2 separate regions of the Homo sapiens genome follow, and region 2 is linked to region 1. Evidence: fine-mapped expression QTL. Tissue or cell type: pancreas. Region 1 holds a variant in brackets; the other region holds the start of a gene. All regions are shown on one strand. Distances are from middle to middle.

Evidence for each region. PIP is the estimated chance that this variant, and not a neighbour inherited with it, causes the effect. A credible set is the group of variants that fine-mapping cannot tell apart.
Region 2: it holds the start of ANXA5, and the variant in region 1 is the best candidate, but not a certain one, in a credible set for the expression of ANXA5 in pancreas (GTEx, PIP 0.52).

The regions. Positions count from the first base shown.
Region 1 is chr4:121,635,879-121,646,842 of GRCh38, reverse strand. It overlaps LOC105377402 (a long non-coding RNA gene), which reads left to right. Exons shown (of 3, transcript XR_939167.3): 3 at 2,225-3,648. Among named protein-coding and RNA genes, the nearest start is that of ANXA5, 56 kb to the left of the region's middle. The variant C/G (reference allele first, on the strand shown) is at 6,004.
Region 2 is chr4:121,692,113-121,701,942 of GRCh38, reverse strand. It overlaps ANXA5 (annexin A5), which reads left to right and starts at 4,963. Exons shown (of 13, transcript NM_001154.4): 1 at 4,963-5,080; 2 at 5,319-5,362. The coding sequence starts at 5,354. RefSeq lists a silencer at 4,595-5,014.

The DNA.
Region 1 (10,964 bases):
TTAATTTATATAAACTTTAAAGAAGAGACAAAATTAAAATAATAATTTTAGTAACACATGCTTATTTGATAAAATTATAATGAAAAACAAACAAGTAACTAGTAAATCTTTAGCAAGTCTAAGAATTTCCATGAGATTTTTGAAAACCTTTAAGGAGAAACATATAAATAAAACATGGAATTTTCTGCTACTCAAGCAGGTGTGGGGTGAGAGCATCAGTGTTTGGAGTACTAATGTAAAGGTGACCTCATTTGTTCATGCAGCCTGGTAAAACCTGGAACACACAGTTCCACAATCTACTGGTTTATAGTCTTTGGTAGCAAGTAGCAGAAATAAACTCAGGTACTTTGTATAAAAAAGAAATTGATCGTGAGTATATTGGATATATCACTTGGTTTTATTTAACCCCAAAGTAAACAAAAACACAATTACATCTGGCTTAAATAATATGGACCTTCATTATCTCAAGTAACAAGAAGCCCAGAGGTCCCAGAGTTGGCTAATTCAGTAGCTCAATCAGAGACTCAGGTACCTTTTGTCTAGCTGTTCTCTCTAACCACAGCCTGTTGGCGAGTCTCTCCTTGTGGCTTTAAGATGCCTCTAGGTGTTCCAGGAATCATGTGCAGATATGACGATATCCAGATAAGGGGGGAAGGGGATGATAAAAAGCTTGGGTGATACAAAGTTGACTTTATCCCAAGCTCTGTAGCGTACCTGTGCATAAACCAATCAGTGGTAAGGAGAATGAGACTCTTCATACCTGGCTTTAACTTCACTGCCTTGGGTCTGGGAAGGGGCCCAGTGACTCCTAGACAAATGACCAATTAGGGCTTCTGTTATCAAGGAAGAGGTAGGGAAGAAAATGACTGTTGGATGAACAACCAACACTGATTCATCTCAAAGAATTAGGGGAAATAACAACTAAATCTTGAGTATGATGGAAAACAGCTGAGTATATTTTGGGAACTTAGCAGCAGGAATACATGAATTTTTCATCCCTTATGTGTTGCCATTACTATAACTCCATTCCAACAATTCCCTGTCTCTGTCTTTCAGTTCAAAATTTCAAATATTGGAAATGACAGTATTTGAGTGGTCCAGCTTGTGTTAGCTGACCATTCCTGCATCAATAAGCTATAGCTGTGCAGTAAAGTTACTAAGAACAGTCATGGCTGTTGGATACCCACCTCCATAGGTAGCCATCAAAGAGGTGTTTACTGTATTCACCTTCCTGATTATCTGGTGAAGAGGAAGGTGAGAAGGGTATCCATTTCATGTTTTAATAATTATCTTATTTTTGTTTAGACTTCATTATCCCCATATTCTGGTAATTTCATCTTTGACACTGTATTTGACACAAAGAAAGTGTCCTTGACACAAAGAAAGAAACTTGTTTAAGGTAGGTAAACTAGTTTAACTATCTTAAAAGAAACTAATAGTAACCATGAGTTCTGACCAATACACATCTTGTGTTTCATTCTGTCAATGCATAAGAAAATAAAGTATGAAATAGTTGTGATACCAAACATATGGATGAAAGTCCTAGTAAGAAGCACCACCATACCTGGATAATTTTGGTATTTTTAGTAGATACAGGGTTTCACCATGTTGCCCAGGCTGGTCTCAAACTCCTGGCCTTAAGTGATCTGCCGGCTTCGGCCTCCCAAAGTGCTGGGATTACAGGCATGAGCCACTGCACCCCGCCTAAGAAAGCAGTTTAATTCTTCCACTGCTAACTCTATTAAGGAAATAGCACCATACACTTTAGCCAATGCAAATGTAATTGGGGCGGGGGGAGAGAATAGAAGAGAGATGAAGAGACAGAGATAGAGAGAAAGCGAGAGAAATATTGGAGAGAGAAAATTTGGGTAGTTAGTATAACATTGCACTTCAGATTTCTTTACCTGTAGTGAGAGAGGGTGGAGACATCCATTCCCTCTTGCTTCTCATAGCCTGAGCATCCCACCACAAAGTGTCGGATTCTAATAATGTTTAATGATAATACACTTTTCATGAAACATGGTGTCATGTGAATAAATAGCAATTTGTTGCAAAGCTCAGAAAAATAGGCATCTTGAAAGAGAGAACTTTATCAAATCTTGACATTAAGAACTCTAATAAATACTAAGCTGAATAAAAAAGCATTAGGTAAGAGGTTGGAAAGGCTTTTGGTTGTAAAATTGAACCAAAAAGGTGACCCAATTACAAAAGTTTTTACTTTCAGATTTTCTGCTGAAGAGAGGTACAAAGGAATTGAAAGCCAACTAAGGTGGGCATAAACATCGAAAAATCTGCTTCAACTTCAAATGTGCAAACTGCTGGAGAAGCTACAACATTATATTTTGCATGCTTATTCTTTAAAATATACTCGACATTGCTGTATAGATTATACATTTATCCATAACATTGTATAATTCAGAGTTACCCATCTAGAGCAAATATATCCTTTATCTTATGCAATCATGATTTAAGAGATTTTCACTGTGATTCTTGTGACTTTTCCACAGTTGTTGATTCTGCAAAGCCCTCAGATAAATCACAACTTAACCGTGTGTATGTATAAAGGTAGTTCTCCCCATGACTTCGTTATGTAAGAATCAGCTATAGCTCCTTTCTGACTTTAAAGACAGCAAGAACTTTTGAGCATATAATTTTCAGTTGGCTATAAAAATAATTTTTAAAAATTGTGAAAGTAATAGGATAATATTTTAGAAAATTGAGGATATAGAGAAAGAAAAAAATACCACTCTAATAAGTAATGTTTTACCATTTTCAAAATAGTTCTTCCTGTTGTTTGTTGGAGCCTCTGAAGGGACTCCATGTACAGAAACACCCCTCCCCACTTGGTTCTGATCAAGTTAATAAACTAAAACAAAAAATAAGGCAGAGGAGGTCCAAAAATTATCTTTACTGTTGGGATAAGGGCTCTTGGTCTGCCATATGGGTTGCTAATATTGAATATTGATTGAACATTGAATATTGCTAACATTGAGTGTGCCAGCAATACTAGCACAGTAGGCCTCTCTTTGAAGGGTCAGACTCCTGGAATATCAGAGGAACATGAGTTCCCTGAAGCCAGGACAATCCTAAGGGTGAATTGAGTCAAACACCCTCAGTTATTCTTTCCAAATTTAGCAATCAGTTAACCCAACTGACTCCACCTTTCTAGGGCCAGTGTAAATAAAGGGAAGAGGGGAGGTTAAGAGGAGAGCTTAGAAGAAAATCCTTTCCACAGAAAATGGAAATGGGAAAAGGTGTTTTGTTTTTATGAGTTTTTAAAAAACAAACAGAAGAACATATTTCTACACTCATATAAAGAGAACAAAGCAAGAGTTTCAATGGAGTCACGATTGTTGTCATATGAAGACAAGTGTGTAAAAAAAAGAGTTCACACAGCAGGTTTGGGACTGCTAGTCTTAGAAATGCCTGCTTGAAAGATTGGCCTTTGGATGGCATCTGGAAATTCGGGTTTCGAGAGGGTTTTCATCATGACCAGAACTGATAAGAGAAGCTCACTGTGCGTAAATTGTTCAAACAATATGAATTATGTGGAACTCTTGCTTTCCTTCTGGGAGTTCGGAATTTTGATATATGTTAAGCAGAGAGTGCCTACACAACCGGCCCCCAATAAAAATCTTGAGAAGTGAATCTCTAACGATCTTCCTTTAACTTATTGCTGGGATAATAAGTGTGTCCCATAGGAATCCACTGGAAGAGGGCTCTTGGAAGCTTGTGTGTGGCCTCCTCTGGACTTTGCCCCATGGGACTTTTCCTCTGCTGATTTTGCTTTAGGCCCTTTTGCTGTAATAGCTCTTCACTGTGACTTTATACGAGGACCTTTGAGGCTTCCTAGAGTATCACTGAACTGGGAGGTGTTCTTTGAGCCCTCCAAAACAACATGGATAGTGTGGTTTCTATTGTTCCTTCAGTTCCCAGTGTTAAATCAAGTTTAGCCTAAAGCTGCCTCCTTACGTATGTTAAGTTCGGCCTAAAGGTTTTTCTGTACACTGTGAACTATAACCTAAATGGAACTGTAAACAGACCAGGCTCACCTGGTCAGTATTGTACCATAGTTGGACCTGCATCTACTGCAGCTCCTGCTTTATTCTCCTTCAGCCTCCCCAACTCCTGGACCAGACGTGTATTTCACTTTATGATGAAAAAACACTGGTCTTCCCTGCAGGACACACCCATCATCAAAGTTGGAGACTTGGAAGTGGTGAGAAATAAGGGAAGGTTCCAATCCATCTTTCATGAGTTTCAGCTCAGCCTCAGAGGTATTGGAAGAGGCAATCCACCATGCGCTGTGAGCATGCCTTTGTGTTCTTGTTGAATGTGCCAAGAATTTAAGCCTCCTTTTATTTGGTCATTTCTCAAGGTTGTGTTTATAGCAAGAATGCTGAAGATGACGTATCTCCCACTGTGACAAAGAACAAACTACTTACTGCTTATTACAGAAGTAATGGATTCTCCAAACTCAGTGTTTCTCAGCTGTGATACAGATATGCTGCATGTGCAGTATCCATCTGAGATTTTCTGTAAAGCCCCTGTGGGACTTGGGGAGCAAAGGGGACTATGACAAGCATGATGTTCATGCCATTTGCTGTATTGTGAGTAACAAAGTACTTCATCTGTGATCCAGGTGTCTTATGTCTTCTGCCAACATTCATAAAACAATAGAAGGTGAATCTTTCAGCTTGCAAGTAGGGGAATATCCTAGCCTGACAGCAGGTTCCTGTTTGCCCTTGCTCTTTCCTCTTTGTGTCCATCTTTCTTTCCCAACTGCCCCACCCTGTGGACTTAAGGCACTAGATACAGAGACAAAGGAGTCACATAGATTGTTTAACTAGATCCTACAACTGGGTAGGGAAAAATTCCCATAGTAAATGCATTTTATGTATATTTCCTAGTGGATTTGCTTCTCTGACCAAACCGTGACTATTATAGCTCCCCTCACAACCAACCTAATCCATTTTCTGAGATTCCATATTGTTGCAAGTTCTGTATAAACATCATCTTTAATGGCAGAAGAATATTTCATATTGAGTAGATTAGACATACTTTATTTATTTAAACTTTTGACACAAAAATATTTGTTCAGTCTAATTAATCCAAGAGGAAAAGAGATTTGTGAAATAGAATTAAACTTTGAAAATAATCTTCCCTTTATGCAGTACTGATTTTATGTTAAGTATTGGAGGAGGCCGGGCACGGTGGCTCACGCCTCTAATTCCAGCGCTTTAGGAGGCCGAGGCAGGTGGATCACCTGAGGTCAAGAGTTCAAGACCAGCCTGGCGAACATGGTGAAACCCCGTCTCTACTAAAAACATAAAAAAATTAGCTGGGCGTGGTAGTGGGCGCCTGTAATCCCAGCTACTCAGGAAGCTGAGGCAGAATTGCTTGAACCCAGGAGATGGAGGCTGCAGTGAGCCAACCTGATCCCACTACACTCCAGCCTGGGTGACAGAGTGAGACTCCGTCTCAAAAACAAAAACAAAAACAAACAAACAAAAGTATTGGAACACTCTGTAATGTACTATTCTGGTATTTCAATTTCACTTACTTAGGTCTGAAGTACTGGCAAAGCAAGCTTGGGAGAGAGAAAGAATATTGAGTTAAAATATCCAAGGCCTTAGAACCAACATCTTTTTGAAAGGAGAAAGGACCCTAAAATGAAGGGGCAATGAAGCCAAGTTCAGTTAAGTCCTTTAATAACATCCATTACCATTTTCATGTGTTTACTTGCTATAAGGGCTTACTTTAAAGTATAGTCAACACAGAAACAACCCAAGTCCTAAATGTGAGGCAATGTGAAAATGGGCATGGAGACAAATAATATCTGCATTTTTTCCACTTACAGAGCCCAAGGGATTCTGTTCATTAAGTGTGATTTTTTTTTTTTTTTTGAGACAGAGTTTCACTCTTGTTGTCCAGGCTAGAGTGCAATGGTGTGATCTCAGCTCACTGCAACCTCCACCTCCCGGGTTCAAGCAATTCTCCTGC[C/G]TCAGCCTCCCAAGTAGCTGGGATTATGGGTATTCGCCACTACACCTGGCTAATTTTTGTATTTTTAGTACAGATGGTTTCACCATGTTGGCCAGGCTGGTCTCAAACTCCTGACCTCAGGTGATCTGGCCACCTCGGCCTCTCAAAGTGTTGGGATTACCGGCATGAGCCACAGCACCTGGCAATTAAACGTGATGTTTAAAGTGGGAAAAAATCATTATTTAAATTTCTTGGCAATAAAAATGGCTATTATGTTGCTCTGCGCAATTCTGCTTTTGTGGAGGGGAAACAAAAGACCTTTTGTAAAATAATTCTTCTGGCACAGTGTCCCAACTATAAAATAATTTAATTGTTGTTCTTAAAATGCTGGACTATAACACTTGTTATTATTCTAAGAAGACCTCATATTTGAGAAGAAATTCTTGCTAAATTGGGGGTGAAGAATGTGGCTCAATAATTATTTCTGCTAGAAAAGGGACAGAACTGAAAAAATTAGACTGCAGAATGACTTAAAGAAGAGGTTACAACTATCTTATTTACTGTATTATCACTGTATCTCTAGGGGCCAACAGGGCCTGGCACAAAGGAGGTGCTTCATACTTGTTCAATGAATGAATAAAAGAGAAACTCAGGGAAAGCAGGACCATAATTTATCCACAGAAGGCAGAATCTGTTTCAGCACATATTATCCGATTAAGTTCCTGAATTTGGAGTTCAATTTCAGCAACGACTCGCCAGTCTTTTAATATATAATTTTCTAATATTAATGTTTATTACTTTGATTTATCTCATTTTTGGCCAGTGTATATTCAATGAGTATTTTTAACACAGATATTTGTGAAATGTTTTCTGAGTTCATGCATATTTGTGTCTTTTTAGTGTTTTTCTTCAGGAAAACAACTTGGTTGGTTATAAAATTTGTTTTTGTTCAAAAGCTGTAGATTTTTTTTTTTAAATTTAACATTATAAAAGTGAGGCTAATCTGTAATTTTCCCTTCTCCCTCTACCCCATTATCCTGAAAGTTTATGATTGTTTTCTTTATTATTTTAATGTTAAAAATTTACCCAGGAGTGTCTAATTATGGATTTATTTTCCCAGGAATGAAGTGAACTGTTTCATCTGTGACCCCGAAGAATCTTCAAAATTTAGATACTTCTTTATTTATAAGTTTGAATTTTGTCAGTTGTTTTGGTCTCTTCCTGAGAGAAAAATAGAATTCTTAGTTTGATTCTCTCTTCTCTGTCCTTATTGGTTTTTATTTCTTTATCATTATTCTCTGTGCTTTAAAATATGTCTCAGTTTTGTCCTCTCTCTCATGTTCTCAGGGTTTTCTAATGTTAATTCAGATCTTTTCTTTTTTCAACATGAATTACAAGTGTTATCAAGTATTTGTTTTTTCTGTAATCCTCTTATTTTGCTTCTTTCCTTTCTTGACATTTTATTTCAGGATGTTATTTCCTTAAACCCATTGTACCTCTTTCATGGAGTACATGAAGTCTGACCTCTTAGAAAAGATGCCAAGAAGATTCATCACGTTTCTTTTGCTTATACGGTTACTATTTTCAGAAGACTTCCAAGTCTTATTCCTGCTAACATAGGAAGTTCCCTCAAGGAGAAATTAAGAAAACAAATGGCAGTGCTATAAAAATTATTTCTTGATGGCACTAATCCTGCTAGCACTAAAACATGTTGGATAAATATTTGCAAAATGTTGTTTTGTGGGGGCACCATATTATTAGTCTATCTGGATGACATATACATTTAATTATAACCTGATTCTAAAAATATTTATGGTAGGAAGGAAGAACAGGGCATCTGTGGTGTTTATGTAATCATTTCTATCTATACATTGTTGAGGTCAAGTTCCAGAACTTGGGAAGAGGTCTATCTTTTGGAAAAGCTTATGTGGTCTCCCTGAGTAGGGTAGACCACAGTCATATATCAAGAATAGAGAGCTGAGCCCTCTCTGATAGCCAGAAAATTGGTGGGGGTGGGGGAAAACTGGCGGGGGCGGGGGTGGGGAAACTCTGGATATGTTTGAGACAAAGACAGATTGATGTGGAACTAGGAACTGGGCAAGCAGCAGGAGGCTGGATGTCTCTTTATTTAAGTAAGGATGATCGAAGGCTGCGAGGTCAAACACTATGAATGTAGTGATTTTTGTTAAAGTTGGATCCAGATGACTGTCAATCCCCTATAACTTCTAAGTGTCTTACGATCTTTATTATTTCTTTTTTTCTACCATGGTCCTTTTTTTTATTTGTGCAAATTATGGGGTACATGAGAAAATTTTCATATGAATATAATTCATAATGTTCAAGTCAGGGTATTTAAAGGTTCCATTGCCCTAGCACAATACATTTTTTAAGTATAGTCATCCTACTCTGCTATCAAATATTGAATTTATTCCTTATATTTTTCTGTTTGTTGGTACCCTTTAACTCACTTCTCTTCATCATCTTCCCTCCCACCTATGATCATTATTTCTTTTGACAAATATACTGTGCCCCTACTTTATGCAATGCACTCGGCAAGCACAAATTGTTTAAGACATGGTCCCTGCAATCAAGTGGTTAACGATGTAGCTGCATTTTTAGTAAAGTCTTACACTCTGAGCCATTAGTGGTATGTGGTTGAGTACCCCTGCACTAATAGGGCAGTCTGCAGAGCTTGTTATACTGGGTTACTCTGTTCCAGCATTCCCAGACTCTGATGGAATAATAAGAGATGATGATATCAATAACTTTTCATCATCTTCCCCTTTAAAACCACATTTTAAGGGTAGCATGTTTTGAAAAGTAAGAAAAAAAAAGGAAAGCAAAGCAAAATAAAAAAAAAACTCACTCAACATCATATTAATCAGAACTAACCACTATTAAAAATTTAGTGTATGACTTTTTTTGAAAAAGCCATTTACAATATTTTTCAGTGTAAATGGTTCATAAAATGTTATAGATTCAATCTGCCTCTTGTTTTTCTAAACATATGAGCCCTCAATTCTGAAGTCAATGCAATTATAACTAAGGATGAGACCAAAATTAAGGACATCAACTATTACTATCCATAGAGCACATGTACATGCGATCATTTTACGGTTCACAAATTCAGGGAATAGTTAAAAATATTATTACAAGGTTGGCTGCGGGGGGCTAATGCCTGTAATCCCAGCACTTTTTGCTTGAGGCTAGAAGTTTGAGACCAGCCTAGGCAACAAAGTAAGACCCTGGTCCCCACTGACCAAAAAAAAGAAATTTCACTGGGCGTGGAGGCACATGCCTGTAGTGCAACCTATTTAAGAGACTGAGGGCAAGAGGATTGATTGAGCCCAGGAGCTCGAGGCTGCAGTGAACTATGACCTTGCCACCGCACTCCAACCTGGGCAGCAGAGTGAGACCCTGTCTTTAAAATAAATAAATACAATTATTACATAACTAATACATGTTCATAGTAGAAAAAGTAGAAAATACGATATGAAAGAAGAGAAAAAAAGTAATCAGTGATCCCATAGATAACAGCTATTAACATTTGGTATTATATTCAATGAGTATGACCTTTTTGAATTTTTTTATCCACATGCACATGCGATTTTTATCAAAATGGAGTCCTATTTTACAAAATGTTTTATCACTTTTCTTTTTCACTATTTTATTTCCTTCCATGTCAATAAATATATTTCAACTATACATCACTTTCAACAACTGTATGTTATTTCATCATCTGGCTATATCATTTTATTATGTGCGATGTTTAAATAATTTGCAATATCTAGTTAAGAATGCTGAAAAGAATATTCTCCACATTTGCCTCTCATCTTTATTTCCTTAATAATCCAATAGGCTTTTAAAGTGATGGGATAGTCTTGTTGGACCCAGGAAGAATCTGCTTCTTTGATGGTTATATGTGAAAGTGTTATCATCCACCATGTTTTGAAAATTAGAAGCTCTTTATCAAGTGTTGTAAGAAAAGGTGACAGAATCTATACACAAGGCCAAGATACATAATTTGGCATGTGACACAATGTGGGAAGGCTTTTCCCAGACAATCATTTAATGAGTCCTTATAGAACATTAGTCAACTGAATATCTGACCTTCAGCTTGAGTCTAATTACTGTTTGGTTATCACAGTTGGATTGGCCAAATGTTATTTAGGGTTTGCAGTATTTAGGCCAGCTTCCAGATTCTGGCATAAGAGGGAAAGAAAAAGGAGCTCAGAAATTTAGTAGAGTGCAGTTCTGACTGAAGTAAGTGCATGATATATACTTTGTTCAAGAGAAGAATAAACAGCCCAACTTGGGAATAAATATCTGATTAGTTTGATAGAGCATTATTTTTCTGAGGCAGTAAATGAAAAGTACAGAAGCAGTAGCAAACAGTGTCAGATCTTAGTACTTTACCAGACAAGATCCAGTAACTCAGGTAGAAATTAGCAGACTCGAGGAAGCAGAAGCTGGATCTGGACCTCTGATGCTTGAGGTGGGGCACAGTGTGAAGCTTTGCAGTGTATGATCCATGACACATGTGACGCGACTAAGTTCACCCTAGAAGGACAAGTGTGTCTACACAGGGTTGGGTAAGAGACATAGTAAACAGGTGGTGTCACATAAAGAGAAGATGGTGTATTCCAGTAGGTGTGTGCAAGACATGGATAAGGAATCTAGAAACAAGTGGTTATTAGAAGTCAAGTAAGGTGAGTGGCAGAGCCTTCTGTTCATAATCTTGAATTGAGGGGAGAACCCTGGCACCTGGAAAGGAGAACTCACTGGAAGTAGCAAGATGAACCATCTGTCTTAGAGATATTAAGTTACTAGGGGGCTTCCTAAAAATGACAAACAAGAGAGAGTAATCAGTGATTGGAACTGGTGCTAGAAGGTACTAGGCTACATGATAAGGCTGGCTTGGTACTGAATGCGAGTCCAGCTTGCCCCAGAATGCCAAGGTCTGTCTTACACCTATGGATGGA
Region 2 (9,830 bases), 56 kb before region 1:
AGCCACTAGAATAAAGCTACATTCCAGTATCACTGCTGGGATGTAGAGATGATGGTGGAAAAAGACTTGACAGAGCCCACTGAGGAAGGCAGCCCCACCTCTAATCTCACCCTGGGACTTTAAGACATGAATGAGTTGAGGGCAGATAGGTGACTTGAATTAAATTCCAGGTGACGGTTTTACAGTTGTTGGCACCAGCAGATGGGGATCAGAGGGCCCACGTGTGGAGAGAAGGGTAGAGGGTGGGGGTCTAGGCTAGTTGTATGTTGATAGGGGCCATCGATGGTAGACTCTGGATGAGGCAGAATAGGCGGGAAGAAGGGGGAATGGCACCAGGAAGCATCAGGTTGGCCCCCAAGAGTTGGACCTGCCGTCTCTGAGAGACTGGCTGGCAATAGGTCCTGCTGCAGTGGAGCAGTGGGTCCAGAGGAGGTTATTTTTGCTTTTAATATGAAGGTGGGTCCTTAATCATCAGAACAGGAACTGAGAATGATGGTTAGTGTTTCTGAAAGAAAAAAGAGCCATGGGGGAATGGAATCAACCCTTTTTCACAATTTGTTAGGCAGTTTCACAAATTAACTTATTTGAAACTAGCCTCCACTCTAGATAAGGAAGCCAAGGATCAGAGAAATCACATAATTTGTCCAAGTCACATCCCTGGTATGCAGGCAGAGTAGGGATTTGAACTCAACTGTCTCTGTCTTCAGAGAGTGTGCTTTTTCCAGATCTTGCCTGGAAGACATGATGTTCCTCCTTTCCCTTTGTATCTAGCCCCTACTTTACTCCTCAGCCACTCTCTCGTTTCTTCTGCTTCATGCAATTCATTCTCCTGCCATCTTTTCTTCTTCTTTAACTTGCCATAATTTGCAATAGATATATTTATTAAACAAAATCAATTTTTAAAGTAGACTGGTTGAAAATGTTATAATTTTCTAAAAAACAAGATTCCAATTCCTCTAAAACTAAAGAAGAGTTGTTTTGTACTTATTTATAAAAAGCCTGTAACTCATTTTCTTTTCTTTATGTGTCATTATAATCAAGGGAAACAGTAGGGCCATGAATATATGATCAAAATATTAGAGTTGAGAGATGTAGAAACTGAAACACAAAGAAGCTCAGCGACTTATTTAGAATAAATTGGCTAGTTCCTGAATGATCCAAATAATTGAGAGAAATAGGGAAAATCCTGAGTTAACAAATAAATACAGTTTCAAAAGTGTGTTTGTAAATTAGTTCTCTGGCATTTGGTATATTTCTCTAATAAAAAGAAAATTGATGTGACCTGAGTGTCTCATAGAAAACAGCTGAAACTCATTATTTATATCTAAGAATAGTATAAAAAACTCCCCACAATTATTATGTAGTACTTATAATGAACACAACACAAAGACAATACACTGAGAAAGAAGGACTTTAATTTTTAAATGTGTAAGAAGAGAAAATTTAATTAGAAAGATGAAAGACTTAACTGGCGAATCCGGCAGAGATTCTAAAGATGACATTTGGACACTGATAAAGGCCATTGGGGGATGAATGACAGACACTTGTTTTTAAGAGTGTGAAAGCTGTCCTTATCAAAATGGAGTCAATTGTGTTAAAAAACGAGACAAATCCCTGACAAATGGCTGGGGAAGGCCATGAAGGGAGGGTTCTAATACATAAATGCCTGATAACAAGAACTATTGAAAAATACTGCAAAAACCACAACTTTGGACAAAGGCCATTGCAACCACACACACACACACACACACACACACACACACACACAGAGAGAGAGAGAGAGAGAGAGAGAGAGAGAGAGAAAATGAGAACTTCTGCGGAGACATCTGCCCAGCAACTGCCTGTACAACATTAGACTGGTGCCACTCTAGTTATTGATTACTGTAGCCAAGGATAATTATCTCAAAAACAATGATGTAATCTTCCTTCTTCCTTGAAAAACCTTTGCCTTCCTTTACCTCCCTGAATACGCAAAATAGTTTAATATGGCACACATATTCCCATTGCAATGCCCATTCCCAAATAAACATCATTTTCTTTTAGAAAGTCTCCCTCTCTGTTTGTTATTAGGCTGACAAGAGGTAGTGAAAGAGATTTCCTGAGTGCCTATCATTTATATCACTCAGTAGTTAAGAACATCAGTTGTTCAAAATCCATCAATTAAATACACAATTCAAAGCAGAATCTTTATGTGGCAATCTCTCTTTATTCTAAATAAGTCGCTGAGCTTCTTTGTGTTTTAGTTTCTACATCTCTCAACTCTAATATTGTACCTTCCACTCCAGCCATTTTAGACAGTTCAAATCACACAGACACAAAGAGATACTTTCCTTCTCTTGGTTTTGCAGTTCACTTAACCAGACCACCCTTTCTCCCCTTCATAGTTTGATAAAATATCCTCTCTCAAAAGCCTAATCCAAATGCTATGTCAACCATCTGACAAAATATTAGCTCCTTCCTCTGAAACTAATTGCATTTTGATTGCATTCTAGGCATTTCTTTCCTGATTTATAGTCTCTCATTGTAGTGTTCATATACATGCTTTATCTATAATATTAAGGTGCAAACTCTTAGGTATGGCCTTTCCACAGGTGCTCAGTGTATAGTTGTCAAATACAATTAAATTGTATCAATTTAGGTTTCTGTTCAAGGCTTCTCAGAAATGGCTTCATATCACCTTTGCAAAATAAGTGTTCCCTTCATTTCCATTCCCTAGCCTTTATTTTCTTTATACCACGCATCACACAGGACATATTAGATACTTGTTTATTGTTTGTTTCCTCCACCAGAATGTATGACCTATGAGGGCAAGGCCTTTGTTTCACTTGCCGTGTTTACCCCAGCACCTAGATCTGTGCCTGGTCCAGAGTAGGAGTTGAATAAACTGATATTACTGGAAGTGAAAGAAATGCTACCTGGAGTATTTCAAGACTCTGAGTCCAATAACTCATCGATTTTGTCAGTATTTAGCTGCAGGACATAGAGCAAGTCACTAACCCATGATGAGTCTCATGTCCCTGTAAAATCAATGATTGTTAAATACAGGATCTCTGAGGTCCTGTTTAACTCCATTAATGTGAGAGTAGAAAGTGAGAGAAGCAAACTGAGTTCAAGTGGATATGGGTGAGAAAAAAGAATGCTCTAGGCAAGACTACAGGTCCTGCTTTTGGTGCAGGGCAGAGAGAAAGTAGAAAAGCTGGAGCAACGGAGACAGATGCTCAGAAAAGGGCTGCCTTCAGATATATTAATACCTGTAAAGAAAACCCGGGGGAGGTGCTGACTTGGGGAGAGCCTGAGGCTGAGTAGACAGCTGGGCTGGTGGAGAGGAGGCTCCCAGAGGAAAGGCAACCCGCCAGTGGGGTGGGGGTGATGGGGTTGGCAAGCTCCACAAATTTTGCAATTTTGCCTCCTTTCCCAGAGAACAACCACTCTGTTGTGACTTTGTCAGGGCTGGAATAGGCATGTGGTTCACACGTGAAAGCGAATGAGAAGTTCTATACAAAGAACCACATTTGCTGTCCATTTAATTTATTCTTCCTCATTCTCAAAGAAGACTAGATCCTCATCTCTTACCCTTAACCTCCACGTTGAGAAGCACTTTGCCCTTCCCATTCTAGCATATGTCTAGAACACTGCATCTAGTGTCGCAAACTTGTCCTCTTGCCCCCTCTGCCCTGGCACCTTCCCTCCCCACACCAGTAAGTCTGAGAAGGTCCCTGTGTCTTCTACTTTTCCTTTTCCAGCATATGGAGACAAAAGTGATTATATCCCGGATGCTAATCCGCCATGTTGACCTTTAATAACCCCAGTCCCATGAATACCTCCTGATTCCTAGGATTTTTTTTTTAAACTGTCCTTAGCATAAGAACATGTCAACCTTGATGCTATTGCCCACATTGTAGGCTATGAAGCATACGGCATTCTCACCTGTTCCGGAGGGCTGCCTTTAATTGTCTTGCACAGAGCAGTATACTCTTTCCTTACGGTATATAAGGCCAGGGTCTGGGGAGTAACAGTGCAGAAATTTATCTGCTTGCCGCCGCCCAAGGCCACGCTTCTGTCTACCACATCCTCCAATAGCACCCCTATTACCTACAGACTGGATTTGTCTGTCTCGTTCTTTGGTTTCTTGACTCCTTCGCGTTTGGGGGCTGCTTTGCATATAAAGCCCTTTCACAGAACACAGCACCATGCTAGTACAATACGCTGTAGATTCTCCCTCCCTCCCCCTCTCTCTCATATACTCATATATTTTATGTTGAACCAATATGAGGCATTGCTCAAATTTAAGTCATATTAAAGTTCTAGGCTAGTTTTGAAAACAGAAACTGATTGGAAGCAGAGGTTTTCAAATAGCCCACATACGCTACTAGAAGGCTGTACATTTAAGAGAGGGCCATCTAGGAAGCAATAATAGGCATTAAAACAACAACAAAACAACAAAACAAAACAGAAACAAAAACAACTTGGGAAACGGCCCTCCTTTCACGTTTTTTCTATCCCATCGACAAAGGCGCGCTGTCCTTAGCTGCGATGATTTTGTCTCGCCTCCAAAAAGACGCCCACGCACTATGTTGAGCACCCAAGTGAGGCTACGGTTCCTGCGGTCACAGAGGGCAGGGAGGCTCAAGCACCTCCAAAACCCCGAGCCCTGGACAGCTCCCCAGGCCCTTCCCGCGGCGCGAGGACAAGAGGTCTCCGGGGCCCTCGGGGGAGCGGCGCCTCCTCCTGGTTCCAGCAGCTCTGCGGCCGCTCCCCACCCAGGCCCGCGAGACCAGCGGGACAGTCCGCGCCGCGGGAGACCAACTGGGACGAGCCGCGACCCACGCAGGCGCGCTGAGGCCGGGGCAGGGGCGGGCCCGGCTGGCGCGGCCGGCCTGCGGTTGGGGCCCTGGCGGGGGTGGGACGGGCCAAGCCGGGCAGGGCCGGGGTGGGGCCGCTGGCGTTTCCGTTGCTTGGATCAGTCTAGGTGCAGCTGCCGGATCCTTCAGCGTCTGCATCTCGGCGTCGCCCCGCGTACCGTCGCCCGGCTCTCCGCCGCTCTCCCGGGGTTTCGGGGCACTTGGGTCCCACAGTCTGGGTGAGTGGTCGCAGCCCGGGGAGGGGGCTCCTTCTGGAGAGGAGAGCGTGGTCGCGGGGCACTGGATTCGCGCGGACGCTCGGCCGAGAGCTGTCCCGGTAGCTGCGAGAGGGCGGGTCGGCCCCGTGGCGGGGCCCTCCGGGCTGTCTGAGCGCCGCCGGGTCCCCGCGGACCTGCGCTTGGGGAGGGCACGAGTTGCAAATGGCGCGCTAAGCCCGAGGTTTCTTCTCTTTTGCAGTCCTGCTTCACCTTCCCCTGACCTGAGTAGTCGCCATGGCACAGGTAAGGCCGTGCGCCCCCCACTGCGCTGGATTTACCCACAACTTTGTATGCTGCGACGAGGGACTTTTAGGATTTGTCTGAGAGCCAAAAAGTTTAGGAGGAAAGGGAACCTGCTTTGGGGACATCGCTTCCACTTTTCTTGTTCCCCCTTTGCTTCCCTGCCCCCGTTTCTGTGTCCCGGTTCTTCCCGCTGAGCGCCCTCCGGAACCAGCACCGACGCCGCCAAGCTGCCTTCGCGCGCAACAGCTGGTGACGTGGCCGGATTTGTGTGCGCTCCCTTTTCATGAGTGAATGTGTAAAAGTGGGCCTTCCCCAAAATCCAGAGAGTAGCTCAAATTAGAACCGGAGCAAGAACAGCTCATCGTGGTCATGTGAGGCGAACGCATTCCCCCCCCACCCCGCCCCCCGACTTCCTTTATTTTTTTTCCGCAAAGTTTTCTGTATTTTAATACTGTGATTGAGCATTGGCTTTTTCCAGTTGCTCAGCCCAGTTTTACTAAAACTGTAGGACGTAGGCTCTGATTTTTTTTTTAATCCAAAAGATTAAACACAAGCGCTGTTTTTCTTAAGCAATGAACTCGTGGAACGAGTTCTCAATTGAATTTGCCTTGGGACTGTTTCAGAAATTGATAATCTACTACAGGCTTTCTTTACTGTTTTTTTTTTTTCCTTTTTTTTTGAGACGGAGTCTCACTCTGTCGCCCAGGCTGGAGTCCAGTGACGTAGTGATCTCGCTCACTACAACCTCTGCCTCCCGGGTTCAAGCAATTCTCGTGTCTCAGCTTTCCAAGTAGCTGGGATTACAGGCGCCCCACCATGCCCAGCTAATTTTGTATTTTTAGTAGAGGCGGGGTTTCACCATGTTGGCCAGGCTGGTCTCAAACTCCTTGCCTCAAGTGATCCTCCCGCCTCGGCCTCAGGACTGTAATCCCACTGCGCCTGGTTTCTTTACTGTTATTAATGTTTATCAAAAATGTAGGAAAGAGAAGATAGTTTAAGGTCTTTAAATATTGACCATGTTATACAGTCTTTTGTGAATAAGATACCAGGGCTTAAAAACTCTAAAACTGATTTCACAGATCTTGTCAATCTAACCGGCTTGTCAGAGTCCAGATAGTTTTTTTTAAACAAGTGTTTTAACTGCTAAAACAATGCTGTCTCTTATTTATAGTTCACTTTTTATCAGATTGACTTATCAAAATTGAAAAAGGTTTCTTGGTCCTTTCCAAGTGAAAATGGGAGGATTAAGATTAGTTGATTACTTTATGAAACTTACACAGTGATCCCATTCTTACCTCCTCTTTTGCACTTAAATGTTACAGTAAACCAATTCTCATATTACTTCAAGTGGAAAGTTTGGTTTAAGTTCTTCTCCATAGAAAGGATACTTTTATGTGGAATTAACTTTCCTGAGTAATATTTTTCCTATCTTGATATGCTGGTGTGGTGATGTACATGAAGATTTAACAAGCATCGAATAATAATTCCCTCTATCTTTGCTCATTTAGCAGTTTCTTGAATCTCTTGTAAGTTCCCCAGTGATGTCTGAGGGTCCATCAATTCCTTTTCATTATGTAGACTGTTTACCCAAATAGTATAAGCGAACATATTTTCCAGTTGTGGACATTAATTTTAATAATTTCAAAGAATGATTAGTATCATAAAGGCCATGTGTATAGAAAACCTAGGAGAATGGTGGTTTGCATATAAAATTATGTACCTGAGCCCTATGACAATATAACACCAAGACTGTTTTCTATCAAAACTACAGTTTTTACTAATCATAAAAGTTACAAGTAATGTTTTAAAAAAGATACAGAGTGTTAAATTTTGTTCTAGTTTTGTTACTATTTTTGGAAATCATGAAAGTAAAACATTTTGTTAAAATATTTAGTATTGGCCAGGCATGGTGGCTCATGCCTGTAATCCTAGCACTTTGGGAGGCTGAGGCACGTGGATCACGAGGTCAGGAGTTCGAGACCAGCCTAACCAACATGGTGAGACCTCGTCTCTTCTAAAAATACAAAAATTAGCTGGGCATGGTGGTGCACAACTGTAATCCCAGCTACTCGGGAGGCTGAGGCAGGAGAATCACTTGAACCCGGGAGGCGGAGGTTGCAGTGAGCTGAGATCGCGCTGCTGCACTCCAGCCTGGGCAACAGTGAGACTACGTCTCAAAAAAAAAGTTTAGTATTAAAGTTGGGTGCGGCGTCTGAGCAGTAAGAATGTCATGAAGGCAAAACTAGGCTACGTAATTGTTCATTAGAAGCTTCATGAACATCAGAATTTTTTTGTTTATTTTTTATTTATTTTTTATTATATATATATTTTTATTATACTTTAAGTTCTAGGGTATGTGTGCACAACATGCAGGTTTGTTACATATGTATACATGGTGCCATGTTGGTGTGCTGCACCCATTAACTCAATATTTACATTAGCTGTATCTCCTAATGCTATCCCTCCCCCCTCCCCCCCGCCCACAATAGGCCCCGGTGTGGGTGTGTGATGTTCCCCTTTCTGTGTCCAAGTGTTCTCATGAACATCAGAATTATCTCTATGGTATATGTTTAAGTTACAAGGTTTGATCAGAAATATTTTCGGTTGGTTTAAAATTATTATAATAATTTAAAAAAGCCCTGTGCCGAGCAAGCAGGATAAATGTAAATAAATAAATTTGAGATGAAACTCCTTCCAGAGGAGCTGACTGGATATTGATTGCATCTTTTCATGCCATTCATTTTTTAAAGTCAAGTCTCTCTGGAGCTAATGTTCACTTTTGGGATCTTAGATCAGGGTTACCTGTTTACCCGTGGCCTGTGCTGCTCCTGGTGATTTCTCTTGGTTCCTTATCTGTTTAACTCTTAAGTTCATTTTGGCTGCTGAGAAAGAACTAGATCAAAAACTACTTGGCTGCTTTGCAAGCCACTGAGCAATTCATTGGCATTCAGCAAACCCTGATTTCCTTATCTAATATCCAGTTCTCCTTGGAAGGCCTACATAGGTGATCAGGCTAGTTACAGGCAGGCAGTCCGGCTTTCTTCTTTTAATGACTTAGAAGTTCAAAATGGTAAAAATATAACAGTGCTTTTACAGCATAGATTCATTCCTGAAATACATTTTATTCATATAACCTTCATACTATTCTAAAATTTCACAAATGCATCTGTTTTTTAAAAATTAGGGCTCCTAAGACCTTTGCTTTAAGTGCTTCTTAGACGCAGTCTTTCAGTTTAGTTAGTTTACATAATATGTAAACATATCATCAATTGATTAATTGCAAGGAATTATACTCCTGGCTTCATTTCTTTGGACACTAGTTTTTTGGGTTTTTTTTTTTCTCCCCCGAGATGGAGTCTCGCTTTGTTGTCCAGGCTGGAGTGCCGTGGCGTGATCTCAGCTCACTGCAACCTCTGCTTCCTGGGTTCAACTGATTCTCTTCCCTCAGCCTCCGGAGTAGCTGGGATTAGAGGCATGTGCCACCACGCCTGGCTAATTTTTGTATTTTTAGTAGAGACGGAGTTTCGCCATGTTGGCCAGGCTAGTCTCGAACTCCTAACCTCAAGTGATCCGTGTGCCTCGGCCTCCCAAAGTGCTGGGATTACAGGCATGAGCCACTGCGCCTGGTGGGACACTAGTTCTTAACTGTTCTCTTTTTCATCCATGCATGCATTCATGAATGCATGAGGCTTTTGCATTTTCACTATGTGCCAAGTATTGTTAAACATGAGCGCAATGGGAAATGGATCTAAGATTTATTGATATAATAGATGCATTGCCAAGTCTTTTGTGTGCATTATTTAGTCCTCATAACACAGTTTTGGAAATAGGTATTACTATTTTTGTTTCACAGAAGGGGAAATTGAGGTTACTTAGCTGGCATTCTTTGTATGGGACAAAGGAGGGAAGCCATCATACAGAGAGGTAACAACAGCAAATAAATACTTAGGGGTGTAAAAGAGTTTGGCATGATGGAGTGAAACTGCAGTGAGGTGGGGAAATCAAGCCTTGTCTTGGAAGGGATAGAACTTTTCAAGTGTTATTCATGGAATGCCCAATGGAACAATTTGGTAAAAGAGCATACTCTCCTCTGACCTTCAATGTGAACTCATGGGAGGCCAATGCCACCTGCTCACTTTAACTCACTCAAGACATCACTGGAGTTATTCTTGGGCAACTTGAGCACACAATTTAACTTTCCATTTTATTGGTGTTTGTCAAGGGAAGTCATTCTTACACTGGTAAAGAGACACAACATTAAACACAGAGCATTAAAGAAATACACAACAAAAATTTAAATCATTTTACAAATCTTCACTTTGTTATCAAAACCTTCTTTTCTACCACGATGCAAACAACTTAGTCTGTTCTCCAGTGATGTTTTTTTTCCCTTGCATTTGATTTTAAGAAACAGGTCAAAGGTGGTAGGATGGATAGACAAATGGAAAGAAGCAAAAACAAGTAAGAT